Regions from separate parts of the Homo sapiens genome. Here region 2 is linked to region 1. The links come from fine-mapping of genetic effects on gene expression. A gene starts in region 1. The other region holds a variant in brackets. All regions are shown on one strand. Distances are from middle to middle.

Region 1 (16,815 bases):
TAGTGAGGCTGGTCTCGAACTCCTGACCTCAGGTGATCCACCCGCCTCTACCTCCCAAAGTGCTGGGATTACAGGCGTGCATCACCATGCCCAGCCAGTGGAGGATTTTGTATTGCGCAGTGCACAACAAATGAATATCCTCTTTTTGTTTTCCTTCATAAAGTCCCTTCTTGGCTTCTCTACACCTAGGTTTGCGCTTTTATTTTTGCTTAATCCATTGCAAGGTTTCTCAACTGTGGCACTACTGACATTCAGGCCAGATAATTCTTTGTTTTAGGGAGCTCTCCTATGAATTGTGGGATGTTTAGTGGCATCCTCCGACTATACCCAGGAGATACCAGTACCACCACCATCACCCCCAGTTATGACGACTGATATGGTTTGGTTGTGTCCCCACCCAAATGTCATCTTGAATTGTAGCTCCCATAATTCCCATATGTCGGGGAAGGGACCTGGTGAGAGGTAATTGGATCATGGGGCGGGTCATTCCTGTGCTGTTCTTGTGATAATGAATAAGTCTCATGAGATCTGATGGTTTTATAAAGGGGAGTTTCCCTGTACAAGCTCTCTTGCCTGCTCACCACATAAGACTTGCCTTTGCTCCTCCTTCACCCTCTGCTATGATTGTGAGGCCTCCTCAGCCATGTGGAACTGTGAATACATTAAACCTCGTTTTCTTTATAAATTACCCAGTCTTGGGTATTTCTTCATAGCAGTATGAAAATGGACTAATACAGTAAATTGGTACCAGTAGAGTGAGGTGCTGCTGTAAAGATACCCAAAATATGGAAATGACTTTGGAACTGGGTAACAGGCAGAGGTTGGAACAGTTTGGAGGGCTCAGAAGAAGACAGGAAGATGTGGGAAAGGTTTGGAACTTCCTAGAGTCTTGTTGAATGGCTTTGACCGAAATGCTGATAGTGATATGGACAATAAAGTCCAGGCTGATGTGGTCACAGATGGAGATGAGGAACTTGTTGGGAACTGGAGCACAGGTGACTCTTGCTATGTTTTAGCAAAGGGACTGATGGCATTTTGTCCCTACCCTAGAGATCTGTAGAACTTTGAACTTGAGAGATATAATTTAGGGCATCTGGCAGAAGAAATTTCTAAGCAGCAATACATTCAAGAGGTGACTTGGGTGCTGTTAAAAACATTTAGTTTTATTCATTCAGAAAGATATGGTTTGGAATTGGAACTTACATTTAAAGAGGAAGCAGAGCATAAAAGTTCAGAAAAATTGTATACTGATGATGTGATAGAAAAGCAAAACCCACTCTCTGAGGAGAAATTCAAGCCAGCTGCAGAAATTTGTATAAGTAATGAGGAGCCAACTGTTAATTCCCAAGACAATGGGGAAAATGACTCCAGAGCATGTCAGAGGTCTTCATGGCAGCTTCTCCCATCAGAGATCTGGAGCCTAGGAGGACAAAATGGTTTCATGGGCTGGGTCTAGTGTTCCCCTGCTGTGTACAACCTAGGGATTTGGTGCCCTTCGTCCCAGCCATGCCACCTGTGGCTGAAAGGGACCGACATAGAGCTTGGGCTGCAGCTTCAGAGGTTGCAAGCCTCAATCCTTGGCAGCTTCCACGTGGTGTTGAGCCTGTGGGTGCACAGAAGTCAAGAATTGAGGTTTGGGAACCTTTGCCTAGGTTTCAGAGGATGTATGGAAACACCTGGATGCCCAGGCCGAGATGTGCTGCAGGGGCAGGGCCCTCAAGGAGAACCTCTGCTAGGGCAGTGCATAAGGGAAATGTAGGGTGGGAGCCCCCACACAGAGTCCCCACTAGAGCACTGCTTAGTGGAGCTGTGAAAAGAGGACCAACATCCTCCATACCCCACGATGGTAGATCCACCAACAGCTTACACCGTGCACCTGGAAAAGCCACAGAGACTCATTTCGAGCCCATGAAAGCAGCCGGGAGAGGGGGTATACTCTGCAAAGCCACAGGGACAGAGCTGCCCAAGACCATGGGAACCCACCTCTCGCATCAGCGTGACCTGGATGTGAGACCTGGAGTCAAATGAGATCATTTTGGAGCTTTAAGATTTGACTGCCCAGCTGGATTTCACGCTTGCATGGGCCTGTAGCTCTTTTGTTTTAAGCAATTTCTCTCATTTGGAATGGGCAGATTTACCCAAGGCCTGTACCTCCATTATGTCTGGGAAGTAACTAAATTGCTTTTGATTTTATAGGCTCATAGGTGGAAGGGACTTGCCTTGTCTCAGATGAAACTTTGAACTGTGGACTTTTGAGTTAATGCTGAAATGAGTTAAGACTTTGAGAGACAGTTGGGAAGCCATGATTGGTTTTGAAATGTGAGGACATGAGATTTGGGAGGGGCCAGGGACAGAATTATATGGTTTGGCTGCATCCCCACCCAAATCTCATCTCGAATTGCAGCTCTCATAATTCCCACATGTCATGGGAGGGACCTGGTGGGAGGTAATTGAATCATGAGGGTGGGTCTTTCCCACACTGTTCTCATGATAGTCTCATGAGATCTGATGGTTTATAAATGAGAGTTCCCCTACACAAACTCTCTTGCCTGCTCACCATGTAAGATGCACCTTTTGTCCTCCTTCACCTTCCACCATAATTGTGAGACCTCCCCAGCCATGTGGAACTGTGAGTCCATTAAACCTCTTTTTCTTTATAAATTACCCAGTCTTGGGTATTTCTTCATAGCAGTATGAAAATGGACTAAGACAACAACCCACCAAATCTTTCTCCAGACATTGACAAAATTGGGCCTGGTAGAGAACCACTGATGTAGACTACACCAAAGACAGGAAGTTTGTAGGGATACTTTTTCTCTGCAAAACCCGCAAGATATAACTTAGAAACCCTCTATTTTTTTTTTTTCTTTGACGTGCCTTTTTGGTTACTAAGCAGTTGGTTTTGGTTGTTTTTCTTATGCTGTCTCAGGGGTTCCCCATCTCAGCACTATTGTTTTGTGCCAGATAATTCTTTGTTGTGAGGGGCTGTCCTGTAGATTGTAGGGTGTTCAGCCTCTACCCACTAGATGCTAGGAGCACCTCACCCCCTACCCATAGCTGTAACAACCAATACTGTCCACAGATATTGTCAAAGTTCCGCTGGGGAGCAAAATCACCCTTGGTTAACAGTCATTGCACTATTTCTACTTATCTTTCTCTATACACTGGTTCTTCTGTCCAGCATTATGTTGTAGAAGAAATGCATACATCTCTCATTTCCTTACTCATAGACATTGAGTGATAATTTTTCTTGTTAAGTGTTACTTACACATGATTATGGAAATATACTATCTCAAGTGGTTGAGTTGTTGCATTCTTTTCTAACAAATATAGCATTGCCCCTAAGAATAATTCTGGAAAATAACATATACTCTAACTTGCTAAACATTTATCATTTCTCCTCTTGAGTGAACAGCACTAAGCCATTTGAGCTTCTATTACAGTTCTGCTATAGATTGCCTTTGCATTAAATTTGCACACACTTCTCTATTTCACTAAATCTGAACTTGTAGAGAACCTCAAGACAAGCATATTGCCTTTAAACATAATAACTATACTAAAATTAAAAAATATAAATATTGGAATCAGGCACTGCCGGGTCAAAATATCCCTTAAGTCCTCTAAATATCACTTAATTTCTCTTTAATCAGGTTTAGGGCCCTTAGGCAAGTTAGCTCCTCTGACTTTGCTTCATCCCCTGCAAAATAGGGGTAAGATTTCCTTCCGAGTGGCGTTCTTATAAATATTAGAGATTAGGAGATAAAGCGCCAGGTATGTATCACTCAACAATGTTAACCATTGTTATTAATTTTATCCAGAGATATTAAGGTCTACATTTTAAAAAGCCTTTAAAGTCTATACTTTAAGCCTTAAATACCTATACCTAGAACATTTACTTCTTTCTTTCCCTTATTTTCTGACTTATTTGTAGTCACAGGTAAGGCATGCTGGGGAAAAAAGTTTGTTGCCTTAATTTTTCTCTTGATTTTACCAGAAATGTTAACTAATTCTAATGTTTTCATGAACACTGAATTTTAAAGTTTACTTAACATCTTTGTAGGGATTTCTTTTTGCAGGTGTGAGAAGCACCTTGCTTCTAAATAAGGCATAAGAGGTAGAATTATAGATAAAATTAGGAAGAGTTTTACTAAAATTGGTTCTTATGGCAAAAACGTCATTTGGTTTTTTTTTTGGTTTTTTTTTTTTTGAGACAGAGTTTTGCTCTTGTTGCCCAGGCTGGAGTGCAGTGGCACGATTTCAGCTCACTGCAACCTCTCCCTCCCGGGTTCAACTGATTCTCCTGCCTCAGCCTCCCGAGTAGCTGGGATTACAGGCATGCGCCACCACACCCAGCTAATTTTGTATTTGTAGTAGGGACAGGGTTTCTCCATGTTGGTCAGGCTGGTCTTGAACTCCTGACCTCAGGCGATCCGCCCGCCTCGGCCTCCCAAAGTGCTGGGATTACAGGCGTGAGCCACCGCACCCAGCCCTTATTTGATTGGTTTTAATGTTTTTCCCAGTAGATAAATTTTTCTTTCACTTTAATTTTTTCCCCGATATATGTATCTATATATATATGGTTTTGACCTTCAAATTGAATTAAAATAAAGCATGATGAAAAGAAAAGCAAAGAATAAAATGAAAACCTACCAGTTAAATTGCAAAATCAATAAAAATGCAGAATGCACTATTCTTGTCATTGAAAAGGATTGTTTTATTCAATTATACAAGGATGCAATTTCCCCTAGATTAGACAAAAAAGTGTTAATACAAGGCTGGGGTATACAGTTTTAGTTATAATGTCACCGAATTTTAGAGGTAAAAGAGACCTCTAAATTAATAAAACTGTCCCATTTTATGAGTAGAGAAATTGAGGCCTAGAGAAGGCAAGTGATTTCCTCAGAGTTTTAACCAAGGGTTAGTGACAAAATGCATACAAGGACCTGAATCCCAGTGAGTCAGACATCCTGCTCTGCTGGTGACATCATTCTGATAAAAATAGAATTGTGGAATCTTCTAAAAAATTTAGCACTTATTTTCTAATGAACTAAAACAAGTAGAGAATGATAGTGGAAATAACTTTAAGAACTGTTGTGGCACCAACTGCTCGGGGGAAAAGAGAATACTTTGACTGGATAAGCTTGAAGCTATGCTTCAATTTAGTACAACTATTTTAAAGCCAGAAAAGCACCATTGTTGTCTTCTACCAAGTGTTTTAGAGAAGACAAATGGACATGGTAGACTATAAAATTAACACAAGAACAGAAACTCAAATACCACATGTTCTCACTTATAAGTGGGAAGCAAACGATGAGAACTTATGAACGCAAAGAAGGAAACAGCAGACACTGGGGTCTAGCTGATGGGGGAGGGTGGAAGGAGGCAGAAGAGCAGAAAAGATAATTATTGGGCACTGGTCTTAATACCTGGGTGACGAAATAATATGTACAGTAAACCCCCATGACACGTGTTTCTTTAACAAACCTTCACATATACCCCCAAACCTAAAATAAAAGTATTTTTAAGAGAAATTAAACTTTAACCAACACATAACATTTACTTTCTCTTCACATAGTCTCTCACTCTCTCATTTTTGAGACTTTTTTAAAATTAAGGAACATACACAATATTGAAAGTTGATAAACCCCCATGACACGTGTTTCTTTAACAAACCTTCACATATACCCCCAAACCTAAAATAAAAGTATTTTTAAGAGAAATTAAACTTTAACCAACACGTAACATTTACTTTCTCTTCACATAGTCTCTCACTCTCTCATTTTTGAGACTTTTTTAAAATTAAGGAGCATACACAATATTGAAAGTTGATAAACCCCCATGACACGTGTTTCTTTAACAAACCTTCACAAATACCCCCAAACCTAAAATAAAAGTATTTTTAGGAGAAATTAAACTTTAACCAACACATAACATTTACCTTCTCTTCACATAGTCTCTCTCTCATTTTTGAGACTTTTTCTAAAATTAAGGAACATACACAATATTGAAAGTTGATAAACCCCCATGGCACGTGTTTCTTTAACAAACCTTCACATATACCCCCAAACCTAAAATAAAAGTATTTTTAAGAGAAATTAAACTTTAACCAACACGTAACATTCACTTTCTCTTCACACAGTCTCTCACTCTCTCATTTTTGAGACTTTTTTAAAATTAAGGAGCATACACAATATTGAAAGTTTAGCAGTATTATTTAAGAATTAGTTATGTCTTCAAATGGCTAGTATGTTTCCAATACTTCCTTACATATATTCAATACTGCATATCTTTAACATGCCTGGAATCTTCCAGTAGCCTGGTACAACTTTTCAACTTAAAAAATAAAACTCCTTGCGTCTTTGTCCAGGTTTTCTTGATCGTGTTTCTCTGTGCCTCTTTTGTTGATTTAACTTGTATTGCTCAGCCATTACTACAAGATCTTCCGGAACACTCTGATTTGCTCTGTCCAGAATTTTAATCAATTCACCGGCCATTTTCGAATCTCTCTGAGTGATGAGGGTAACTGATGTGCCAGTCTTTCCTGTCCGTCCAATGTACCCTACTCTGTGTACATATACGTCAATATTCCTTGGGAAATCATAATTATATACATGTGTGACATCATTAAGATCAAGACCTCGGGATACTATATCAGTTGTAATCAGTATCTTTATGTTTCCGCTTTTAAAGTCCTCTACTGCTCGCTCTTGATCACTCTGTTCACTGTTGCCATGTAATGATTCTGCAGATATGCCTTGGATATTGAAGTCGCTTGACAAGTCATCAGCAATATGTTTTTGGCTGACAAACATGATGACTTTGTCGTTGGGTGACATGTTCTCTACGAATTCTTGGGTGAGAGCTCGTTTTTCTTTTTCTGTGGTAACAATTATATTTTGCTTCACTGTATTTACAGCCACTAGATTCAGATTACCAACATAAACAATCATAGGATCTTTCAAATAAGAAAGTGCTAGTTGACGTACAGTATCTGGCCAAGTTGCACTTGTCATAACAGTCTGTCGGTCTGGGCGCACATCTAATAAAATCTTCCTTATCTGGGGTTCAAATTCCATATCCAGCATTTTATCTGCCTCATCTATAACCAAGTAGGTTATGCTTCTTAGGTTGACAGAGTTATTCATTTGTAGGTCATTCAGCCTCCCAGGAGTTGCAATAATGATATCTACACCTTTGCTAATGTCTTCTATTTGTCCATTTCTGTTTCTACCACCATATATGCAAATGCTTTTGAGACCTTTATATGAATACTTTGAACATTCAGCTTCCACGTGAAGAGCCAACTCTCTAGTGGGTGTAAGGACTAGCATCCCAGGCCCATTCCTTTGCTCTCTAGATATTGGTTGAGAATCAAGATGAATAAACCCAGGCATTAGATAGGACAATGTTTTCCCTGTTCCGGTTTGTGCAACTACTATAAGATCTATTCCTTGTAGAATAATTGGCCATGCCTGTGACTGAATTGGCGTTGGCTTTACAATCCCTACCCTTATTATGCTTTTCAGAAGATCAGGGTATTGCTGAAAAGCGTCTTTAAACCTGCAAGTTGGTTTTGGAATGAGACGCTTTTCACCACTTTTCAAGTCATCACACGTTATGTTGAAATTTTCCTTTCTCCAGTTAATCACCTGCATTTCAGACATGCAGCTTGTTGCTTTGGATTCTATGTAAAAGTTTTTCTTAACTGGTGGTAGATCTGCCCATTTTCTCTTTTCGCACTCCACGACTGCTGCCCTAATGCGATCCCAATTTGACAATGGCTCAGCTTCTCCAACAATGTCATTTCTGCCTAGATTTCTTCCAATAGGGGTTTGGGATGCAGCATTATCCACACTGGATTCTGAGTTGTAGCTTTCTTGTTTTCTAATAAGTGTTTCTATAGCCGCTTTGGCCTTTGCTTTCATTTCCCTATTGCCAAAAATTCTGACTTTTGCTTCAGATTCCCCGTTTATGATCTGTATTTTAGTGTTTGTCGAATGTTGTAGATCTTTTATTTTTGATCCACTGTAACCAATGACCACACCAACCATATTGTTCTTTATTTTAAAGCAGAGTGGTGGTTCACGGGAGCCTGCTGCTCTCGGTCCCTGATGGCCGAAGGGGCCACTCCAGCCACTGCCTCTGCTGCCCCTGACATCCCAGCTGGCCCCAAGGTCTCTTGGATTAGCCTCCGCCCTCTTCCACTCTGGGGCCCAGTGGGACATTGTGGGATAGTGGGAGTATCGGCACCGGCTTCTCGCCTACATACGGTTGGAAGTTCAGGTCTGCGGCCTGTTTCCCGTCACCTTCTGCACCAAAAGATGGCGGTGGCAATTATTTCCGGGTGCTAGTCACATAGCTACGCAGAAGTTGCCCCAGAAACCAGTGTTGGCGTCGAATTCCGGGTCGTGTAGGGGGCGAGGCTTTGATGGCCTGACCAATCACAGGGCTTGGACTGGGGTGAGGTAAGCAGGCGTCTGTGACGCAAATTTAAAGAGGCACTCACTCTCACGGGCTGACCCTGCCAGCACTTACAGGACCCTAGGAGTAACTGCCTCCTTAACTTCTGCGTCCCGGGTGCTCCTTTCACTCTTCTCGTGATAGTTCTGGCTCAGCTTGAGAGCAACCTTGAAGCACGCCTTAAACATACACACCATATACACATTGTCCTTTATATAAGCCAGTTATTTCCCTAAGAGAAAAAAATAATGCATTTAAAGTAAAACTATTTATTTATATATTCGTGTGTTCATTTATTTTGGTAAATTTCTTTTGGAGTGAATACAGTACTTTGTCAGGATAAATTCATCATTCCCTGTCCTCTAGTGTAACTTAAATTCTACTAATCAGAAATCTCTTAGGTGCACACTCTAGGACAGCGTTTTGCCTTAATTCATCAACTAAATGTCAACACTTGTTTAGGCAGTTTCCAGATATTATTACAGGGATGATGGTTAGAAGAGAGGTAAAGCAGTGCCTAAGGTACTTTAGGGGCTGTTTTTAGTGGTTTGTCACTTTTCTCAGTGCCTCTTCATTTTTTTTCCTTCCCTGTGGTTTGATAGCTTCTGAGACCTTAGCACTGGAAGGTTGTGTAGAACTCATTTATTAGGTACACGTAGAAGACATTCTAGCTGCAGTCTGGACAGAGGGATATCCAGCTTCCATTTAGACACTCCCAGAGGCAGGGAGCTCACTTCATTTCAAAAATATCCATTCCATTATGAGGCTGTTTAATGGTTACAAAAGTTTTTTGAACCAAAACGTGCGGCTTCCTGTGTCCTTAAGTCCTTCTGAGTTCTGAAGTTATACAGAATAGGCTTGATTCTCCTGTATCCTTGTGTACTAAAGGATCTGTCAAAGTTTTCTTTTTTTTCTTTTTCTTTTCTTTCTTTCTTTTTTTTTTTTTTTTTTTTTGAGATGGGGTTTCACTCTTGTTGGCCAGGCTGGAGTGCAATAGCATGATCTTGGCTCGCTGCAACCTTGGCCTCCCGGGTTCAAGTGATTCTCCTGCCTCAGCCTCCCGAGTATCTGGGATTACAGGTGCCTGCCACCAAGCCTGGCTAATTTTTTGTATTTTTAGTAGAGACAGGGTTTCACCATGTTGGCCAGGCTGGTCTCGAACTCCTGACCTCAGGTGATCCACCCGCCTTGGCCTCCCAAAGTGCTGGGATTACAGGTGTGAGCCACCGCGCCCAGCCTCTGTCAAAGTTTTCTGTGCATCAGGGCAACATTTCCAGTTTCTTCGACGTTTCTTGCTATGACATGGTTTCCAAGACACACATCATCCTATTGCCTCTCCTTTGGAAATGGTTCATTGAGGACCATTTACAATGTAGCACGCAGAACTAAAAAACAGGAAAAGACAAGCAAACAATCTGCAGAAATGGCATTACTCCTACTATTAGGGCATCTTTACTGAGCATGACAATTCTACTAATTTGACCTAAGAACTCCTGAGACACAAAGCTGCTCACAGTAACATGACGTGCATTTAAGTTCTTGCTTCTTTTACTTACTCAGCTGATTTTTTTTTTAATTTGCTTACCTAAATGAAGACTATGTATGTATCCTTTTATAGTCATCTTATTAAGTTTGATCAATTGATGTAACCTATGAAATATAATTTTAATGATTATTCTGTCATCCATCATATTAGTCTCTAGTTTCAAGTCTTCTGCCAATTTAATGTTCATAGCATCTTTGTCTCTTTAGTCAGTCACTGATTAAAATTTCATCATGGTCTAGTATAGGACAGAAGTCTGACACCTTGGGAGAAAACTTCTCTGTGTCAGTACTTTTTGTAAAAGATGCTATTTGAAGAAATAAAAAGGTTTCTGGTCAAATATGTTTGAGAAACACAGCACCCTATATTCTCTCTGTTAAAATCACAATGCTTATTGGATATTTTAGGAGCTATGATATTTACAGACATTGAGAAAAATCAGTTGTTTAATCCAAAGTTCCCCAAACGAATTTGCTAATGGATATCTTCATCAATTATTTAAATAAGCTTTTTATTTGGAATAATTTCAGATTCACAGAACAGTTACGGAGGTAGTGCAGAGAGGTTCCTGTATAGCCTCAGCCAGTTTCAGTTTCCTCTAATCTTATCATATCTCATTATCATGATACATTTGTCAAATATAGGAAAACACTATTGGTGTGTTACCATTAGCTAAATTCCAAACTTTATGCTACCAGTTTTCCATTAATGTATTTTTTCGGTTTCAAGTTCCACTCCAGGACACCATACTGCATTTAGTTATGTACAGTTTGTGAGAGTTTCTCAGTTTTTTCTTATTTTTCATAATCTTTCCAGTTTTGAGGAGTAATGATCAGGAATTTTGTAGAATGTCCTTCAAAAAGGTATGCTTGATGTAACTTCTCATGATTAGACTGGGGTTATGGGCTTTTGGAAGAAAATATCACAGAGATGAAGAGCCTATCTCATCACATCATACTGGGGAGATAGGTACCTGATGTCAACGTGACCCATCATTGGTAAGGTCAACCTCGGTCCCTTGGATAATTTGTGTTATTCAAGTTTTCTACACTGTAAAATTATTATTTCTCCCTTTCCATACTCTATTTTGTGGAATGAGTCACTAAGTCCAGACAACCCTCAAGGGCTCAGTTTGCATTTAAATGCAATCTTTATTATTATTTTTTACAATTAGTAGTGTTCTTTGGAATGTATTTTGGAAACCACTGGTATGGATAAATACAAATTACCTGACCAATTTTTTTTTTTCATCTGGTTGTTGAACCGGATATATTCTGATCAAGTCACATTACAACTCCTCCATACTTCTCCATGAATTGTATTAGGAATTTTAAGGCATTCTCAATGTCTTCTAGTTTATTCATTATTTTAAAAGGAAATTTGTTTAGTTACACGTGGCTTTTACCTCTTGAAGGATGTATTATGTTTCTCTGTCTTTATGCCTTCATCTTTACTTTGAATAATAGTTAATATTACAGAACTGTAGAATTCTACAGGTGTTGGGTACATCAGAGGTCATTTTGTTCTCCCTTATTACAGAGAGTGAAATTGAGGTTCCAAAATCTTTCTGGAATTGACTGAAGGTACTCAGCAAATTATTGAGAGTAAAAATTTAGAACCATTTGTTGACTTGTGGCCAGTCGGGAAAATAGTACAGGACATTACTCCTTTACTACGAAGTGACTTGCTTCTATTCTTATTTTTTGTGGGTGATACAGAAAAATAGAAGAGGCCATGAAAGTGAAGTGAAGAAAAGTCATATTGTTGGGAGAGGGGTAGTTGTAAAATCTGGGTAGAGAGCAGTGCACTTTAAGGTGGAACTCATTGTGGTGAATTACTGTGATGACACAGAACTGGTAGAAGACTTGTGGGTATTGAAGATACTGAGAGGGATTGTGCTTTCAGGATGATTCATTACCATTTACAATTGCCCGTATCAGTTGGAAAAAATATTTGTCAGCTCAATTAAGGGCCACCAGTGTGATGTTCTTTGCTCTAAATATCTCTACAACGGCCTTATTCACTGTATCTGAAATATTCTCACTAAATATGTATCTCTATGGCTTATGGCTTGGTATGTTATTAGCATGGTCCTGGAAAAACAAAACACAAAAATGTGAATTTGTCGGTTAGATGCTTTCCAGTGGAACAGCTGGCTAAAAGATTCTTTTAGGGCAGAGAGTGGGAAAGATGGGAAGAATGTGTAAAGTTTCCCCCAAGGTAAGATAAAAAGGGTTATGTAAGGAAAGACAAGAGTATGTTTAAGACGGTTTCTACCATTTTGCTTAGGGCAGTCCCTATAATCTTAGAGGCAACAGTAAGAGAGTGAAATATTGCAGGCAGTGAATTGGGCTAATTTGCCATCACTCCGATTTCTTCAAAACTCTCTTAAAGATGAGTTAATGTTGCTGGCCTAAAATAGTCTCATATATGGGACTCCCTTAGAAATGATAGTGATAGTGTTTTATTTAATAAATCTGCTGTGATGGTCTAAGGCAAACTTGACTTATGGAATTCCAGTTAGCACTGTTGATGATAATAATTACAGTTGGTTTTGCATCTGTACAGCACTTTACAATTTATAAATACTCTTTATGGAAGTAGTTTCCTTGGGATGATATATATCTGGCCATTATTCTGTTCAATAGGTGTGCTATATTATGGCAAATGTTGCAATTATCATTGTACATATTGGTATGTTTATTTTGTATATAGAATCATACTCATACCACAGAGTCTAAAGAAGTAGCAGCAGTGTGGTGTAGTTAGCAATCAAGAACACTGGACCTTAAATAACTGGGTCCAAATATCACTTTCACCATTTATTCACTGTGAGTCATGAGAAAATTGTTTTAGTTTTGCTGTCTGTAGAATGGCATACTAGTACCTGTCTCATACACACACACAGGCACACACAAAGTTTTACTAATTGGTTCATAGTAGGAACTCTCCAAGTATCAATTATCCCTGTTACAGAAACAGTAGGTATAGAGAGACAATCATGGAGATTCCCTGTCCAAGGATTTTCCTGATAGCTTCCTCTGGTCCATATCAAAATGAAAAAAAAAAAAAAAAGAAACAAACAAACAAAAAAAACAAGGATAATAGAACTTTTTTACCCAAATCTAAATTTATTCAATGTAAACTTTTTTATTCTAACATTATGCCCTACTATCTTTTGTAAAATATACTTTTAAAATGAAATAAGGATTTCAAATTATTTTTAAAGGTCTCTCCTAGGGCAAGAAAGAATGTAAATCTAATGGCCAGTAGCCTAATTAGGCTTTGAAATGTTATTGGTGTATGAAACCCAAGTGCTTGTAAGCACTGATGTGGAACATCGAATGTGGTTTGAATGTTTTTGTTCCCCCGAAGTTCCTATGTTGAAATCCTAACCCCAAAGGTGATGGTGTTAGGAGATGGGGCCTTTGGGAGGTGACTCGGTCATGAGAGTACAGCTCTCATGAATGGGATTAGCTTGCCCTTGTAAAACAGGCCTGAGAGAAACCCCATGCCTTTTTTGTGATGTGAGGTTACAATGGAAAGGTGGCCATCTGTCAACCGGGAAGCGGGCCCTTACCAGACACCAAGTCTGCTGGTAACTTGATTTTGGACTTCCCAGACTCCAGAGCTGTGAGAAATAAATTCCTGTTGTTTATAGGCCATCCAGTTTATGGTGTTTTGTTATAGCAGCCTGGCCAGACTAAGACAATTAGCCCAACAAACACAAATTAGAATGCTATTAGGTGTTAATAATGGTTGCAGGCAAGAAGGGCCGAAGGGAGGTTGGAGAGGCTGGAGAGTTGAGGCAAAGACCTATAAGGGGAGTGGGTTTGATCTGATACTATAGGAGGTATGAAATTAGAGATAGAAGGATGTTAAAGTTTCAGGGAAAAAAAACAAGTGTGGCCTTTGGGAAGAAATCAGGGCAGCCTGGAGGACTAGGACAAAAAATTCAGGTTAAGGAGAAAGGGGAAATGGAGAAGGATGGTTTGGGTCAGGGGAAAGGAAAAGGGAACTTTTAGGAACCTTAAGGACAGTCAATGAACTATCAAGTTAATATGGTAAAACAGTGGGAAACTTAGAATGAAGGAGTCATATGACATTAATGAAGGAAGTGGGTCCCTTTGGAGAAAGTAGAATGCAGGGAAGTGGGGTTGAAAAATGGGGGCTTTGTTTTTGATATCTCAAGTACATGGGACTGAGGGACTTGAACAGAGTGTGGTAGTTTAGCAGTGGGAACTCGGAGAATGGAACAGATAGAAAAATCACGTCTGAGAAGCAACTAACATTTTTGAGTTCTACTATATGCCAAACATTTTAAGTGTATTATCTCATTAAATTACCACAGCAACTTCATGGTATGTATTTTCCGTCTTTTTCATGTGAAAACATTGAAGCTCAGAGATGTTAGATAATATATCCAAGTTCATGCAAAGTTACGGTAAATAACTTTAAACATGAATAAATTTAAACGTGGATATGGTTAGCTTCAAGGTCTTTTCCCTTCCACCTAATCCTAGTTTCTAGGGAAAAAATGTGCTTGATTTGGTGCCTGGTTCTCAGATAAAAAGAGTCTTTAATTAAAGATGACTCAGTCTTCCAGGTTAGAGACTTATTGAAGCAGAGAATCTTGAAGCCATTCGACAGGAAAGGCGGAGGGGAAGCAGAGGAGTTTGGTTTCAGTCATGTCCAGTTTGTGGTGTTGTGGGGGGCATACAAGTAAAAATGCTAACTGAACCTGGAGATTTGGGACTGTAGTTCAGATGAGAAGACGAAGAGAGATTTGAGAATAGTCAGCATAGAAGTTATAGTTGAAACTCTAATTGAATACTTGAACAAATAGACAGTAGTGAAAGACAGGTTTAAGAACATTTTAAGGAACCATAGAATTCATATGATTAGATAATGAGAAGAGAAAAACAGGAAGGTAGGTGAAGAGAGAGTCTACATAGTAGGAAATAAGGCAGGAGAACTTGTCGAGGAGTTTTGGTAAACAATATAAAATTCTTCAGAATGACAGGAGGGAGGTAGACTACTCAGTTTTGGAGATGAAAATCATCAATGACCTTCAAGAATGCCCTTTTTGGCCCAGCGCGGTGGCTCACGCCTATAATCCCAGCACTTTGGGAGGCCAAGGCAAGCAGATTGCTTGGGGCCAGGAGTTCGAGACCAGCCTGGCCAACATGGCAAAACCCCATCTCTACTAAAAATACAAAAATTAGTCGGGCATGGTGGCATACATCTGTCATCCCAGCTTCTCGGGAGGCTGAAGCAGGAGAATAACTTCAACCCGGGAGATGGAGGTTGCAGTGAGCTGAGATTGTGCCACTGCACTCCCACCTGGGCAACAGAGTGAATGACTCCGTCTTAAAAAAAAAAAAATGCCCTTTTTGTAGAATGATGGAGAAACACGTATTTTAAGGGAAACAATTTCAATGAGAGATGACTAGACCACTGGGGAACTTTGTAGTGATGGAGTGAGAACTTTATGTATCTTGTACCTGAAGCTCAAAGGCAATGTCTTAATTTTAAACAATGCTTCTAGAAAACAAGACTTTCGGGGACAGGTTATTGCAATTGTTCTGGTAAGGATCCAATGGACTTCAGGAAAATTACTTATGAATATTGGAAGAAAATGAACTTTAATAGTCTTTGGAAATATGTGGGAGGATATACAATGAGAGAGGGAATCACAAGGATACAAGAACCATTCATTAGCAGTTTCAGAAAAGGAAAGTCTGTTTAAAAGGAGGGAGGAGAGTGCTGAGAGTTCTTTCAAGGAGATTACAGTGCTATCTTTAGCTACGCATTAAACTTTTCTCTATCAAATTTAGTTTATTCTCCACAGAATAGGGGTATGCATTATTTAGGTATGTGAAGAAGTGAGGTTACTGAAGTAATTAATTCTTTTTTCAGCACAGACAGTAAAAAATAGTGTGAGCTGATTAGCACCTGCAATAAGCTCCTTCAGAGAAATCCTTGCTTACCAACTACTTCCTATAGAAATGTTAACATATTGGTATTCATTTTAAAAATAATAATAACCTTGCCTCTATTTTGAGGCATTTGAAGGGCTTTCCAGAACTATTTCATTTCTGATAACTATGATGTAGGTAAGTAGAAAGATAAACAAGATTATCTATATCATTTTGCATTGCATAAAGAAGTCAAACAACAATTCTTAAAATCATGGGGTTGTAGAGGTGTAAAGGATTGACTTTGGAGAGCATCTCTTGTAAAGCTTTGATTTGCAAGTGCAAAGGCTAAGATCTACACATGGCTCTGTCCAATAGATAATTTTTAATTTGTATTTTTAAAAGTCTCTCAAAATATATCCTCTCTCCTAGGTGCTTTTAAACATTTAAAGAGGAATTAACACATATTCTACAATGTTTTTATTACAGAAGATAGAAAAGGAGGAGGGAACACTTCCCAACTTATTTTATTAGGCTAATAGTACCCTGAGACTGGAAAAAGACAAATCCAGTACAAACAAAGAGAAAACTACAGACCAATATCCCTTATGAACACAGATGAAATAAAACCTCAAAAAAAGTTAGCAAATGGAATCTAGCAATATATAAATGTACATCCATACATATGTATATACACACATATATACACACATACACCAACTGGAGTTTATTTCAGGGATGCAAGGCTGTTTGAATATTCAAAAATTTGTCACTTTAATAAAACACTGCATTAACAGGCTAAAGTAGAAAAATTGCATGATTTCATCAATTTATGCAGAAAAAGCATGTGACATAATTCAACACCCATTTATGATAAAAACTCTAGCCAAACTA
Region 2 (16,140 bases), 260 kb after region 1:
TTCCTTCACGCGGATTCTTCTGAAAGAACAGACTATAGTGAGTTTAAGCAAGTATTTGTATGGGTGAAGTGTTTCTTTTAGGGATCACTCTTACATCTTGCAGTCTTTCAACTTTCTCTTGCTTCTCACTTCCCAGATATGAATATGTAAATGGACCAGAAAAGAGTGGGGTAGCTTTCTGACTTTATAACTTCACACTGAAGATAAAGGATAGATGCGTGATAGTATTTTCTCCTTAGATTGCCAACCATTTAAATGCCAAATCTTCTCCCATCTTAACTCATATGAGAATAATAAAAGTCATTTAAATGGAGGTTGCCATGTGTTCATTTATTCAAGAAAACTTTGTTGAACACTTAGTAAGTACAAGGCACCATATTAAGGTAGAAAGGTGAATAAGATAAGTACAGCTCTTTTCTTCATTGAGCTTATGGTCTAGCATCCTTACTAATTCAGTATCTAAAATAGCTAATCACTTGGGTTGTATAATTTAGCATCCATTAGAAGCACTCCAAGAGGCTTGGCTGGGGGGCATTTGTAGGTCACTCAAATGAAATGTTAACTCCTTCTAGGCTTTATTTAGCAAGTCAAACTTAACACCTTCAATATAGGCAATTAGGATCAAAAGGTGTTAAAGCACATTCAGGCACAAAGCCATCTATCAAATTAAATTACTTAATCTTTCAACTAGTTGCTTTTAAAGTAAATGACCCTCCAAAGTTAGTGGGCATTAGTGTGGCCTAATGTTCAAATGCAGTTTAAAATCTAAATGCTGATATTCTAAACAGATCACACTCACCCTCCCATGAAATGTATCCTTGATTTTAGACTTTTCCCCTTAAGAGATGTTTAAAAGTAGGTATCTCCTCTTTCTACAGAGAACAGGGCCATTTTTTTTAGAGTAGTCATCAGTGTGCCATTGTAAGTGGAAATTGTGCATTATGAACTGAACAATTCCAGGAATTCTATGTCTAACCTTGGGTTCTCCCAAAAGTATATCACGAGACAAGAAGTGGGTTCAGGTAGTTAATTATAAGAAGTGCATACAAGAAGGCAGGGGAAGTGAGACAGAGAAGGGAAAAATCCCTAAAAGAATTTTAATAAGCAGGTTATCTCAGTGGACTCCTAGGCCTCAGTCCTATTGAGGACCCTCTGAGCAACCATGTAGAACGTGCTTCAGAATAATTCCATCAGAGAACAAAGTAATATGAAATATTTATCTGCCAACTCTCAGCCATTATGGGTTGCGGGTAATCCCTAGGGCGGTTAAGTTTCAGAGGCTTCTAGGCTTCCCAACAAGCAGGCTGGGCAAGCTGCCACAGTTGCAGAGAAAGCCCTTGCATGGAGAAGCAGTGAAAACAGGCACTTGCAGTGGAAAGTTATCAGCATACTAGGAAGTGTTCACTACACCTACATGTTTATTTAAAGGTGGGCTGAGGGGATATGAGGCGGAGCATCCCCAGCATTGGTACACCCTGCAAATTGCTGTAAACTGGATTTGCTTAAAAAAGAACCATGATTAGCTAACATTTGACAAAATGTTGGTCCATAGGCTTATTTGGAAACAATACTTTGTTTTCTGCAACGCGTCCAAAGAAAATTTGTGTACATGTAGATTTATAGCACTTAAAATCTTATCACAGTAATGTTTATTTCATCGTATCAAAAACTGCATATCATCATTTCTTCTTGCCCATACCCGTGATTTTTCTGAGGGCTAAGAGGAAAAGGGTATTCAATGGAGCAGTTCGCCTCTACAACAGAGAAAACAAGGGATGTTAAGTTCAGGGTGCCATTCATGCCACATTTATTCATTGATGATAGTAATACCTTGTGCTTCTTTACCAGCTTTTCCCATTTGGCCTGATGACAACATCCTTGGAGTGTCAGAGAAGTTATTATGACCTTTACTTTACAGCTGAAGAAACTTTGTTTTGTTAAAACCATGAATTGTGCACTTGGGATGTACTCTATATTGGGTTAGATGTTCTCCCTTAAGATAGTTCAGTTAATCTTGCCCAGAAACTTGGGTATTTTTGTCCTTGTTTTAGGGATGAAAATTCTGATCAGGGACTGGTGGAGTTCCCATGAGGCAAGAAAGTCTGGTAGCAAGACCCAGTTCCTGAAGCTTCAACTTCAGTGTTCATTCCCCTGAAACACTTGACCTTTCCAGGTTGTCACCAGATTCCCCCAACGTTCCCCAACAGATATCTAGTCTTACATGTTACAACTTTCATAGGACCTTGCATGGTACCAAATTTGTTGAGTGAGTACATTCTACACAATCACAACACACTGAAGATATTTTTTATCTGTGCAAACTTGACCTCCATCCAGATGAGAGCTGATTTGATTAAAAGGTTCATGAGACAACACCCGCTGATCAATCAATGTTTTATGTAATCTACTTCCTTCTGCTTTCTACCAGCTTTCACTTGGTTAGTTACGCCTGGGTATTCTACTTATTGACTAGGCTCCAAGGCCACATGTGAACTGGCTTTTCCTTATGTCTACAGCCTCATCTCACAGGGAGCTCCCTCTCATTCTCTCAGGTGTAGCCACATTGGCCTCCTGTTCATCTCTCTTACATGCCGTGCTCTGTGTCATCGGTGCAGCATTGAACATGCTGTTTCCTCTACCAACAATGTTGTTGCCCTTTGTCATCACCAAGTAAACTCCTGCTTATGCTTCAGATCTCAGCTCAAGCATCACTTTTTCAGGGAATCTTCTCTAACTTATCCTCTGTAGACTCTAATAACACTATGTGTCTCTTTGTTGCTATTATTAGAACTTTATAATTTATGTGTGTGTGTGTGTGTGAAGATTTAATCAATATGTGTCTCTCATACCATCTTGCATGATCCATTACAGCAAAATCCTTATTTGTTTGGACTTACCAATGTACCCCCCAGCACCTAGCAGCCAGCTACCATAGGGCCTTACACATGGCAAGCACTCAGTAAATATGTCTTGAATAAAATATATCAATCTATGTTAATAATTCCTCTGAGTTGGACCTAGAGTCTTGTTCTCAGCCCTAGTGTTTCTCACTTAGGAAAGTACTGCCCCACCCTGGGGGCATTTGGAAATGCCTAAGGGTGTTTTCTGGTTGTCAGGATGACTAACTGCAACTAACGGGATTTGGTGGCAGAAGGGATAATGATCATGTCACGTGTGGATAGTCTATCCAAGGAATAATTGTTTCACCCAAAATACCAGTAGAACCCTGTGAAACACTGCAAGAAAGATTATGTATTACAATAGTAGGCATCTAAAGTGTCTAAAAATTGTGGAGTTTGGGGCTTTTAAAATTCTTTATGATATAACTATACATATTTATGGGGTACAGTGTGATTATTTACATGACTTATACAGTGTATAGGCACAAGTTTATGTGTGGATGTGCATATGTGTGTGTGACTGCTCTTTTTAGTTAATCTTATGTCAATTAGTAATTAGTTTACAGATTATTTTCCCAAGTGGTGTCAGAAAGAAGGGCTGCAGGGAAGCAGAAGGAAATGGCGATAGGAAAACTGTCTGACAGATCAGAAATGTTAAACCTAAAAATGACAAGGGGGGGTCCCATGTTAATCTGATTTATACTGCTGATATTTCCCTATATATTTCCTAAGTTCTTTCTTGCTTTTCTATTTTTATCTGGCTTCTTATTTCTTCTCCAGGTTAACTCCCCATTCTGACACGTTCATGTGTTTGCTTTCTTCCTTTTAGTTCAAACAGAGAATTGAGATTAATTTTCTGTACTGTTTGTGTCCAGAGTCACAGCCTGTGGTTGCGATAGAGAAGCTTGCTAAAGCCTGTGTCAGTGTTTCTGTTATACCATGAGAGCAGTCCAAATGTCAGTGGTAAAGTTTCCTTTACTAGACTGAAAAAAATCATTTTCATCATACCTTTCCTGCATCAGATGCCTGGAAAAATACGGGGCAGAGATGAAAACTACTGTAAGATAATGGGACAAAGCACTAGATGGGGACTCCAGACACTGGGGAGCCCTACTGACCAACTCGAAATCATTTAACCTCTTTTGACCTTGGTTTTACCATTTTAAAATAATCAGAAGGCCAGACAAGATAGCCTCTAGGGTCCTTTTCTGATCTAAAATTGAGTTTTCAAGTTTGACAAGGGATAAGGGAGGAGAAAAAAAGATATAGGAGATGTTATCTTGGAAACTAGGTAGGTGTATGCCTTACCATGTATGAAATTGTAAATCATGTCTTATTTCTTTGGAATAG[T/C]ACAGAAGCTTCTATTCTGGAATAGAACAGCTAGCATACTACCAAGACTTTTCAAGGAGCAAGAATGGAGCTCCCTGGAGAACTGACTGAACATGGCTTCAGAGGCAGTATCCATGTAAGTAACTACATAAGAGTTTAAGTGGGCCATGGGGATAAACCCACGCTTTAATCCCACTTTCTGACTGTCTTCTATACACCAGGCTTGTACTTATCCACTCTAAACCATTGTTTCCTCAAGTGGAAAATGGGAAGGATGGTAGCACCCACTTCACAGGATTATGGTAACTAAGTGAAAAAATGTCACATGAAAACATGTCTTAGCACATGGTAAGTGCTCCATAAATAATTGATGTGATTACTATAAGCAAGCTAAACTGATCAAGAATGGAACCATTTAATAAATGATTCTTTGGTTACCAGAATTCTGCCCCCACTGCAACCCACCTCTTCCGGAATGGCTGATAAATGCTTGCATGAAATAGCCACTCAAATGGCTGCTACCAGTCAAATGCTGATAAAAGATATATTTAAAAGGTATTACTTATTACTTTTTATTGAAAAGGTATGATTACTTTTTATAAATTTATTTCTGTTCTTAAAACTGCTACAGATGGTTCTGACTTTTGAATTAATCACACTGATCTAGGAAAAGGCCACATTTACTGTTTAGTCTATCGTGGATTATGGAGCCTCATGTGACTCACTGATAATTTTCTTTTATTATTCCTTCCAGAGACATAGAGACAAAAAGTGCCCTCACTTTTACTGTATTTTGACCTGGACCAGTCTACATTTATATGAATAGCTACAAAGCAGCTTTCAGCACAAGGCTGTAGGGTAGGTTCAGATTTGGCCTCTCCATTAATTAGTAAGTACCATTAGCTGGGCAGACAGCTGCCAAAGGGACTTTCTCCACACTCCCATGAGTTGGTCACAGAGATGTTACTGTACTTTTTTACTCATCACCATGATTAATTGCTGCACTTAGTTCATAATTTCCCCTGGGAGTTAACCCCTAGCTTGGGATAAACACTAAGGTTTTGTCAAATCCTCCCATTCTAAGATTGGAATATTGTTGCATCATCCTGTTGGATGATTCAGGATTTTAAAAGTTCAGAGCACTCTGATATTCCGACAATTATATACACATTGTTTTCAGTCTTCTTCTGCTTTATGATCCTTGTTTATATTTCTTTGTGTCATTCTTTTTAGTAATTATTTCCATCGTTTCTTAAGCATAAACATGTTCTAACTGGCTGTGCGGTAGTGTTTCAATAGAGCTCGTCATTTCTAGGCAAGCTCTTCTAATAATATTTTATATTTTTAATTTATCTCCTTATATTTTGCTGTAATATGGGTTTCATTGATTTTTAAAATGAGTTTTGTTTGTTGTAATATAAGGTTAATTCTGTTATGTGCCAGAATTATACATTTGACAGTTTTCCATGGAATTATTTCAATTGGCAAATTAAATAAACTCAGACTATAGCCTCAGTATTAGTATTCTTAATGGATACACTTTTTAAAAGTAAAGACAAATTCCCTGACCTAAATAGTTAGGCAGAAAATGAGACATGTAAAGTAAAATCAGTATTTCGTTTCTTTGAAACTTTATTGTGACTTGAAACAGTGCAACAAAATATCAGTCTAATGCCATATTACTGATTTTACCAGTGCTGTAATTTTTAAATAATAAATGTATACTTTACTGATTAATGACTTGAGAGCTGCTTACTCTTCATCAACGTAAAACTGCTCTTCAAGTTTCCCATTCCACCTCTGCGGTATCACTTACTTTCAATAAGCTCATCTCTCATTTAATTTAAAATGTAAGGTAGTACATTCAATAGCTCTCTACATCAATTGTTTTTAACTAGATTAATTTATGCCTATGTAAGTATAAATAAGGCCTTGAAGTTGCTTGCGTGATAAATAATAAATAAAATACAAATTGTTGAACAGATCAATGGAAAAGGAAATAAGAGTGGATTAATAAAATAAAACCAGAAGATACAATTAGTTTAAGAAATGCCTACTGTAAAATCCCATTAAATCACTAGAAGTAGAATGTAGATTTGGCTCTGAGCTTCCCAGTAGCCAAAGCAAAAAGAACTGCATTATTTGCAAGGTTGACTGTTTTTGTAATATGTTTTAAGGTTTTGTTTCACAAAAAACCATCTTTTCCTGATATGAGCATGAAGAGATATTTCTCTTGAGAGTCCTGATGAACAGCTTGTTACAGGATATGAAACACATTGTCCTCAACGTCACTCTGACAGTAATTTCGAAGGGAAGTTTCTGTATTTTTGTTTCTCAAAAACGTGAATTGTAGCAGTAATGCCAAAGCAATATTCAGTAACACCAGTTTTACATGTAACCAAAACAATGGAATACAAGTTTGGGAACAATGACATTACATGTTTTATCCAAGAATAATATTTGGCTACTCCCGAAGAATGAATGACCTTTATATTCTTCATTCACAAATATATATTTATGTGAATAAAAATAGAATACAAGTACAACACTATTATATTTTTATTTATTCAGTCACCTGTGATTTGGGGTTCAAAGTATTGACAAGGACACCTGAATTTTTCTCTAATATACTCTGAGATGGCTTTTTTTGAAGTGTTTTTGTTTTGTTTTGTTTTGTTTTGTTTTGTTTTGTTTTGTTTTGAGATGGGGTCTCACTCTGTCACCCAGGCTGGAGTGCAGTGGCATGATCTCAGCTCACTGCAACCTCTGCCCCCTGAGCTCAAGCGATCCTCCTTCCCCAGCCTCCCAAGTAGCTGGGACCACAGATGCACGCCACCACACCCGACTAAGTTTTTGTATTTTTGGTAGAGATGGCATTTCATCATGTTGCCCTTGCTGGTCTTGAACTCCTGGCTTCAAGTGATCCGCCCGTCTCAGCCTCCCAAAATGCTGAGATTGCAGGCATGAGCCACCACACCCAGCCAGCTTTTTGAAGTTTTGGTACAGTAATTACCTGGAGTAAACAAGGTGGTGATACAGGAATACCTGAACAGTGCAGAAGGCTTAAGGAAGTAAAAGGTTAGAATAGATTTATTTTGTGATAACAGTGAACCCACCACCTGACCGTATTCCCCAGAGGGGTCATAGGACAGTTCCTTCACTCAGGCAATAAGAAATGGCAATGATCAACGAAATGTCCTCTGAAGGCTAGGGTAGACAGAAAGACATGCTGCCATGCAATTGGACCTCCTAATATCAATGGAGAAAAGAGGGAAATTCCGGAATGGTAGAGGCCAAAAGCAACACTTAACCTTCAGAGGCAAGGCAGTCTTTGTCTCAGATGCTGATTTTTGGGAAACCCCAAGATAAGACAATGATGAAGGCAAAAACCAACTCATTTTACTGGATTATTTTATTTGTATTGCTACGTAATAATTGTACATATTTAGGGAGTACATGTGATATTTTGATACATGCATACAATGTGTAATGATCAAATAAGAGTATTTAGGATACCCATCACCTCAAACATTCATCGTTTCTTTGTGTTGAGAACACTTCACATTTTCTTTTCTAGCTATTTTGAAATATACAGTAAATTATTGTTAACTATGCAATATAGAATTACTTGCTACTTTACTTATTTCTTAGCACTTACAAGTTTAAATTCACTTAAAATGTTATGACCTAGAAAGGCCTACATATTTTCATTATGACAGTACAGCACTTCATCATTTAGTAAGTCTTTTTTCTGGTTTCTTCTCCCTACCTCCCCATTTTTAATAATTGAAACCACTTTGCTTTTGATCATCCCAAGCACTTAAGTGACATAAGTCTTTCAGCTGCTGGATGAATAATGTATTTATAATATTCATAACTGCGTGTAAAATAAACAGCTCATTTGTTTCTATTAACGTAGTCGTTTTGAAGTCTGTTCTTCCTCTCAGATTCTTTTGCCAATTTAGAAGTGAAAATATATATATAGAAATTGATTCAGTCTTAATGACTCCCACTTAATTCTTCAAACTGGAAAGTAGCTGGGTAAATGACTCACTATGGAACTATTTCTTACCATTACAAATGTTCTCCAGCTACTCTCAGTAAAATACCTTTATAAAACACCTAATATGTGCCCAGTATAATGCTAATTTAAAAAGAACTCCTGGCCGGGCGTGGCAGCTCACGCCTGTAATCCCAGCACTTTGGGAGGCCAAGGCAGGTGGATCACCTGAGGTCAGGAGTTCGAGACCAGCCTGACCAACATGGTGAAACCCCATCTCTACTAAAAATACAAAAACGTTAGCTGGGCGTGGTGGCGGGCACCTCCAGCTACTCGGGAGGCTAAGACAAGAGAATCGCTTGAACCCGGGAGGTAAAGATTGCAGTAAGCCAAGATCACGCCACTGCACTCCTGCCTGGGTGACAGAGCAAAACTCCATTTCAAAAACCAACCAACCAAACAAACAACAACAACAGCAACAGAAAACAAAAACTCCTTAAAGCTACTCAGGATTGGATATAAATTTTATATAGACATCCCCAAAGATGTAAGTACTGAGATATAATCCCTGAAAAAAGATAGTTACATACATTTGGATCAACAAAAGTGTTTGACTATCTTTGCCCTGGCCTCAGGTAGGTCTATAAGAAGACTTTAAGGATAAACCAAAGGTAATAATAAATAAGTTAACATACACTGGAAGGATAAGCACTGGGAAAACTGAGCAAGGAGTGAAGTTTATCTTTAATCTCCCTCTTCCCCTTTCTGTATCTTCTAGTATCTGAGATCCCTGCTATCTGTCAAAAGCCTATTGGGCATTTCATTCCAGACCAGTCACCCCCTCAGTAAAGCTTTACACCATAATAGGTGTGTGTTAGGAGCTTGGTGCCAGGGGATCTTGAAAACTGAGAGACCTCTAAACCCCAAAGCTATGATTCTGTAATGGGGTGATTTCAAGCATTGCTGCAAGTTAAAATTTTAGGGTAAAAAAGCATTATTCCTTAGGATTTGCCAAGCACTTTTTGTACCTAGAGGCAAAAGAGCCCTAAAATCACTTCTCCATGAAACTTTCTTTGACACAGAAACTTAGAATTGTCCTGTTAAATCTTAACAGCTAATGGTGATCATCTGGTGGTTGTGTGATTTTCTTATAAAACACAGCTTTTTTAGGATTGTTTGAGTTTTCCAGTGTGTCTTTCTTGCAAGTATCCTCTCTTATTTAGAACATAATCTTGGCAAGAAGCTGTGTGACTATTTGCCTTGACTTGCTTGGACCAAACACAAGCAGTCAAAATAAATTTAAAAGATGAAAATGATGATTCATTTGAGGTATTTTTTTAAGGTCCTCGCATGTGTCCTAGAAACTAGGTTCTTTGACACTATTTCATTTTGGGGGTCAAAGAAGAGAAAGCTCCAGGATCTGTCAAATTAGTTTTTAAAGGAATATGTGTAAGAAAGCTAGGGAAGGATTTTTTTTCCCCAGTAATGTATGCCATACCACATTTAAAATAAGGAGCAGTAAATGCATGGAGTAATATTTTGTATGCACAGATGGATATATAAATTAGTACCTCCTATTTTAAATGGAATGCTTCCAAAAGTCTTCTATTCTTCCTTCCTGGAACAGGCAGTTCAGGGATGACATAGAGACTAATAGATGGAGTGTTTTAGAAGGGATTTAAGCCCGGGGTGAATGGTTGGACTAACCGACCATTAAGACCATTTCCAAACCAGATGTTCTATGATTTTATGAAACCATATATGAAGCCTATTATCATGTTTCTAGGTTTCTTTTTCAAAATTAATTATATTAAGTTCACAAATAATTTTCCTAGCATGCTTCACATTGTCTCAAGCTATGATATAATGTTTGGTTGAGTTTTAGTTAAGAGACCATGTGCGTTTAAAAAAAAAGATATATACATAGTACCTAAAACTACCAGAAAAACAGTGATGACTGGAAATCTCACTTATTAACATCTTTAGTAGAAACAATACATGGTACAGAGGGTTAAAGAAAGATAAGACGTGTATGCTTATGGAGAAAAGGGGTCACGCTAACCAAGAACTTTTTTATTTTTGAAAGACACAAGGTAAGGTTTATGACAGGGAGCCCATCAGTCTTAAAATCATGCTTTCTGACTCAAATCTAAATATCAGTATTGAATATTGTGTTATAATGAATAACACTTGCACCGCCTTGTTTGTTTCAAACAATATGATGTTATCAAACACCACTCTCAGTATGTCAATAAATACAATTGTGTATACTTCAGTTATACAGAGAGTTAATATAAGTTCAATAACTGGCATATTTGTTATTAAATAGGATTGTAATAACAGGTCTTGGTGTTTCTGGACTGTAGCACAGCTAGGTGAATCGTCCTCCCTGACATTGAGCATCAAAAAGTCTTTTTACTTGCCACTCATTTTGCAAGGTCTCAGGGGACAGACGTTTTGCAAACTCTGTGAAATCTTAATAACAGCCTAAAGGAGAGATTGCAAATGTAAATGAACAGCCACAGCCCCTTTAAACATGACTATATCACACAGATGCTATACATAGCAGCTGAAAGCCAAATAATGGTTTGAACTGAACATGACTGGACGATTAAGGTCACCTTCCGCAGCTTTATAAGCAGTTTCTTATTATAATGGTCTTCTGACATTTTTTCTCCTATGACATAATTGTTGCAAGAGGTTGACATTCTCATTGGCTCATGGGAACATTTCCTTCTTTCATTTGCCTTTTAGTCATGTGTCTGAACTTTTATTTGGTATTTCCTCTTTACAGTGAATCCTAATATCAATGAGATTCAATACAATAACTTTTCTAGAACTTGATTGAAGGTATTGGTGTTTTTTTCAAGTATTTGCTACTTATTACTGGCTATACCTTTTTTCTTTAAAAGTATACTTTTCTATTTATGATGGACAATTTGAAAAATATAAGAAAATGATCACCATGATCTCATGATCCAATGAGCTAAAATATTGTATTTTAAATTCTTTCAGAACCTGTTCTATGCATATATGCATATAAAAATGAAGTTTGACTTACTGCAAATAAGTTTATCTTGCTTTTGCCTTTTTATGATTGGTTATTTTATATATAACAAGAATATCATACACACGTGAGATATGTGAATAAGGGTAATATAAATACCCCTGAACTCACAATCATGCTTGAGAGATGCAACATTTGAAGTTCCCCATGGGCACCCTATATTGCCCTCTCCAACACTATCCCCTTCTCTATCCCACTCCCCAAAGTGGACACTCTTCTCAATGTGGAGTGACTGCTCTGTCAATTTTCTTTATATTTTTGCTACACTGGCATGGTGACTCTCAAATAATGATACTGAACTTTAGGAAATCTTCTGCAACTTTTTTTCACTCAACATTTTGTTTATGAGAATCATCCATTTTGAAATATATGAACATTTCACTTCTATATGGTATTCCCTATTGAAAATATACCATTTTTATTTATCTGTTTCATATCAATGGATGTTTAAAAGCATTAGTATGAACACTTCCCTATCAATGGATATTAAAAACAACAGTGGTATGAACATTTTCACCCATATCTCTTAATGAAAATGTGCAAGTGTTTCCTTAGGGTCTAAATCTAAAGTGCAATTACTGGGTTGCAGGACGTGCTCAAAATTCAACTTTATTAGATAAAAATATTTTACCAGAATGGTTCTTCCAATTTATACTTTCCCTAGTAGCATAAAAGTGTTCCTGTTATATCTTGCTTTTATCACTTAATATGATTAGCTTTTTCTCAAGTTCAGATGGTCTGTCTTTCTCTAGGCTCTCTCTACCTCATCAAAATGCTTGCACAATCATGTGATTTTCCTCCATATGCCAAATCTTGAGTAGACAGCCCATAGGAGGCTCTAAGCAGGCTAATCAACATGGAGACACTCCAGAAATAGTTGAAAATAAGGCTTGTTGCCAAATATATGAAATATTTTTGCTCATCTCTTTGTACAGTAGTCTCTCAGGATGTCTTTTGAGTACCACGCATACATATCCTCCATACACATATCCTTTAAATATAGCTTAAAAACCATAGCAGAGCAAATTGTCCTTCCTACTATATATGTCCTTGTTTATCTTTCTTCATCTCTTTTCACTTTATAGCACTGGTAGCAACTGGTAAACAGTACAGGATATCAACACACAATTTTTGTTGTAAAACAACGGATAAAAATCTGTTTGTTCAATCAGAAGTAAGAGTGAAAAAAAATAAGGTTGACTCAGGGTCAGCATAGCAAATAGATGGCGTGCTCTACTGGAAAAACTGAGGAAAGCTTAATACGGGGCATACTGGCAATTGTATGAGCAGGATTAAGAAGGGGAACTAACAAGGCACAACAGAGTCTCCAGACTAGCAACAGTGGGGAGCCATTACCACCACTTGGGCCTGAAGATACAGCAGGAGGGAATGATTACTGGCATGGAGGAGGAGTAGCCTTCAGGAGAGAAAAGGAGCCCCTGTTAATTTTGTCAAACAGGAAATGAGCAAGGAAAATAAATATCTTCACCTCACACTCATTCTTGTTGATTTCCAGTAGGTTTTTTTCCATTGGCTCCACCCAACTGAATGTCAGAGAACAAGAAAACTAATTTGATGTGATCCCTAAAAGCATAAAGCAGGGTGGAACAAGTTGGAGCGTAGATATAGAAGTTCTAGGAAAGTAAAAACATGGTGATTAATTAATAAACATAGGTCCTTTGGTTTTTCTCAGGTCTGATTTTGTATCTGATTTTTTTTTTTCAGTATTGACAGGAAGATGGTAATTAAAGATATTAGAAGCATGGACTTTTAAGTATTGCCTTGAAAAATGTCTTTGAATTTGTACAGTAGCTAAAATCAGCTCTCAGCATAACTGCTCAGTCATTTTGTTTTGCTTGACACATATCTGAGATTATGCATGTTATAACAAGCACTCTGGAATTAAAAATCAAGCCAAGGGGTTTTGTTTGTTTCTTTTGTTTTGTTTTGTTGGTTTGTTTGTTTTCAAATCAAAAGATAGCATCTTGAATTGCCCCATTATAATACGCTTTCATTCATGATGTTTGGATTATGTGCATAGTAAGGTCTCTTTATAACCTAGCCTTAGTGATAAAGGATGAGTTTTATAGCATTTTAAAAATCTATCTTTTCAATTTTTATATCTTTCTCTAGCACCAACAGTAGCCTAGTGTTTCCGGATGCCAGAGAAAGCCTTTAGTGGCTTTTCACAGTAGTTTTTTTTTAGATCCATTTCTTCTCCAGGTATCTCTCCCTTCAAGAAAATGTGTCTAAAGAGCTCCATGGAGGAAAGAACTCAGGATACTTTACCTAAAGGAAAAGGACTAAGAGAAACCACTCATTTTACCTTCTTTGTTGGATGCCATGCTTGTACAGTCTACAAAACTATGAGCCAAATAAACCTCTTTTCTTTATAAATTACCCAGTCTCAGGCATTCCTTTATAGCAAGGCAAAATGGACTAATACATCCCCCATCTTCTCATTATTCTTGTTGATTTCTAGGTTCTTGACCCACTTAAGTTTTCTAAAACCAAAGCTGTGCCTGATTAAGCACAGAATAAACAAATATTGTTTAATGAGTTCAACCTAATGGTATCTAGGGATATAGGAGAACATGTCAATATCATCTCCATTTATTTCTTTACAATTGTGATTCAGCCTCAATACAAATGAATCATATTTGTCAAGCTAAAATGACATTTTCCATCATTTTTCTTTAGAATCTATCTTTAATCTTGCCCCTCTTGGATATACTGTTTAAGTCTACTTTGTTTTTATTTCTTAGCCTTAGAGTGATATTGCTCCTAGACATAATTGTGAATTAGGTGAAATTTGTTTTCAACTTTCCTGACCTTATATCCTTTTAGTATTTCATTTCCTCTTCCTTCTTACCACCCAGTGGTGTGCTGGTAAATATTTAAACAACTAGATTTCATGGGAGAAAAGGGTCCTGATTTATAATATTTGTAGAGCTTCCAGGGTGATGTCTACTGGCTTGCAAAATTTCTGAAAATTTAACAGCTGGCTCTTGTGAATTGGTATCAGCCAGCTTCAACATACCACAAACCTTATTCACTACTTGAGGATTTAATGTGGCTCACACATACTGCCTAGTCCCTCAATTCACCTTCCCTATGTCTGCTCTAATTCTGTCTTCCAGGTAGTACACCATGTTCTTCCTCAGCAACTTACCTGCCATATGTCCATTTTTTTCCTTCCTGACCATGTCAAGTAACTGACAAACCAAGCTTGGAAACTGACACAAGATGAGATGTTAATGAATGACAGATTCAGTGGGACAGCATATCCTCAAAAGGACATTTGTCAGAAAAAGAATGATGGTTTAGAAATAGCAGTGTTGAATACAGACTAGGGCTAGGCGATGGAAGGAATAATATTTGACAAAGAGTTTGAGAATACAGAAGAGTTTACCATGAAATAAGAGTTCCCAGAGAACACAGTGAGATGATTTGAGAGGAAGGAGAAATACGGGAGTAAAGGTCAAGGTAGGCCTATATGGAGCAATGTGGGAATAAGAGTTTGGAAGAGTTTAAATGACCCAGGGATTTACAACCTGGGCAATGACCAAGGATAACATATATGTAAGCATGGCATGTTGAACTCACCTTAAGGCATCCAAAAGAATCAAATACAGCCATTCTGTGTTTAATTAGGAGTAGATTTGAGAATATGAACTATGCACCAGTATACTCAGAAGAAATCAGCAATGAACTGGATTGATTTTGTTTCCGAGGGAGTAGTAAATCAGGAGAATAAGCCTGACATGGCATTTTTTTGGTTTTCAGGCATATCACTACTAGGAAACAGGGTCAGCCTCCATGGGAGAATTTAAATTTGGTGTAGAAATATATACAGATTTATTATATGCTTCGTTGGTGTAAGCTGTATGTCCCATAATTTTTACTTAGAGGCCCAGTCTCTGTGCATGGACACTGAATTGTTGACTGTTCTTTGTCCTTGAATTCAGCTCTTGCTGACTCTTGAGAGTTTTGCTCCACCTTCATCTCTTCTCTTTGTAGACTCCTCGTCTGATAATTTTCTCTTTGACTTTAAGATTTCCCTTATTAGGGAAATAAAGTGTCTTCATTTGATTGTATTTTGCAAGCTAGCAACAGCCCTGTGTGTTTCCTGTTCCTACTTTTTTAACACCCAGGATCACAAGAAGGTTTTTACGCTATCTTTTTCCATTTCCTTTCCAGTCAATTCCTTATTATTCTTTGAAACTCTGCTTTGCTTCTTCAAGGAAGCTTATTTCTCTGAAATTTAAAAAAGCACCTCATTATTGAGAAATCAAATACCTTTAACTCTGTAAATTTTTACCAAGATTTTCTGCTGACTTTGGCATTAATGCCCACTCCCTCTTCTATACTCTTTGCTCATGTTCATAAAAAAGTCTTCTATCATTATTCTCTTTTGGCAAATTCAATGAATATTTAAAATCACTCCACTTTATCCTCTACTTTACTTATCTGAATATTTCCAATTCTTGATCAACAACCTTCCTACAATGATTAAACTTTAACCTCTGAGTTCAAGTGTTTTCTCCTTAATTCCCAATTCTATCTTCTCTCTTAAATTACATAGCTAAATACTTATAGGAGGAGAATAGAGGAAACAGATATGCTAGATGTGGCTAGACTTCTACTTTCGTAGATTTGCTTTGGAACCGTGTAAATATTTTGCCTAATTGTAAAGAAATATTAATAATTTTGAAAGGTAATCCACAAATCTCAAAAGAAAATGAAAGGAATGAATGTAACACCATTGATAATCATTTTTTAATATTACTCAGAAATGGTCATGCATATGTTGTGAGATAAAGTTAATCATTATACTGATGTCA

Which allele goes with the higher level. Alleles are on the strand shown, and positions count from the first base shown. SD is a standard deviation of normalised expression in the study named.
For the expression in prefrontal cortex of the gene that starts at base 8,323 in region 1, allele T in region 2 goes with a higher level than allele C (small effect, 0.18 SD a copy in CommonMind).

Evidence for each region. PIP is the estimated chance that this variant, and not a neighbour inherited with it, causes the effect.
Region 2: its variant is fine-mapped to the expression of DDX53 in prefrontal cortex (CommonMind, PIP 0.95).

Annotation. Positions count from the first base shown.
Region 1 is chrX:22,991,468-23,008,282 of GRCh38, reverse strand. It overlaps DDX53 (DEAD-box helicase 53), which reads right to left and starts at 8,323. Exons shown (of 1, transcript NM_182699.4): 1 at 4,694-8,323. The coding sequence starts at 8,225. The coding sequence ends at 6,330. The region is part of intron 3 of PTCHD1-AS (PTCHD1 and PHEX antisense RNA); the gene reads left to right.
Region 2 is chrX:22,731,454-22,747,593 of GRCh38, reverse strand. It overlaps PTCHD1-AS (PTCHD1 and PHEX antisense RNA), which reads left to right. Exons shown (of 12, transcript NR_073010.2): 4 at 4,256-4,365. Among named protein-coding and RNA genes, the nearest start is that of DDX53, 260 kb to the left of the region's middle. The variant T/C (reference allele first, on the strand shown) is at 4,251.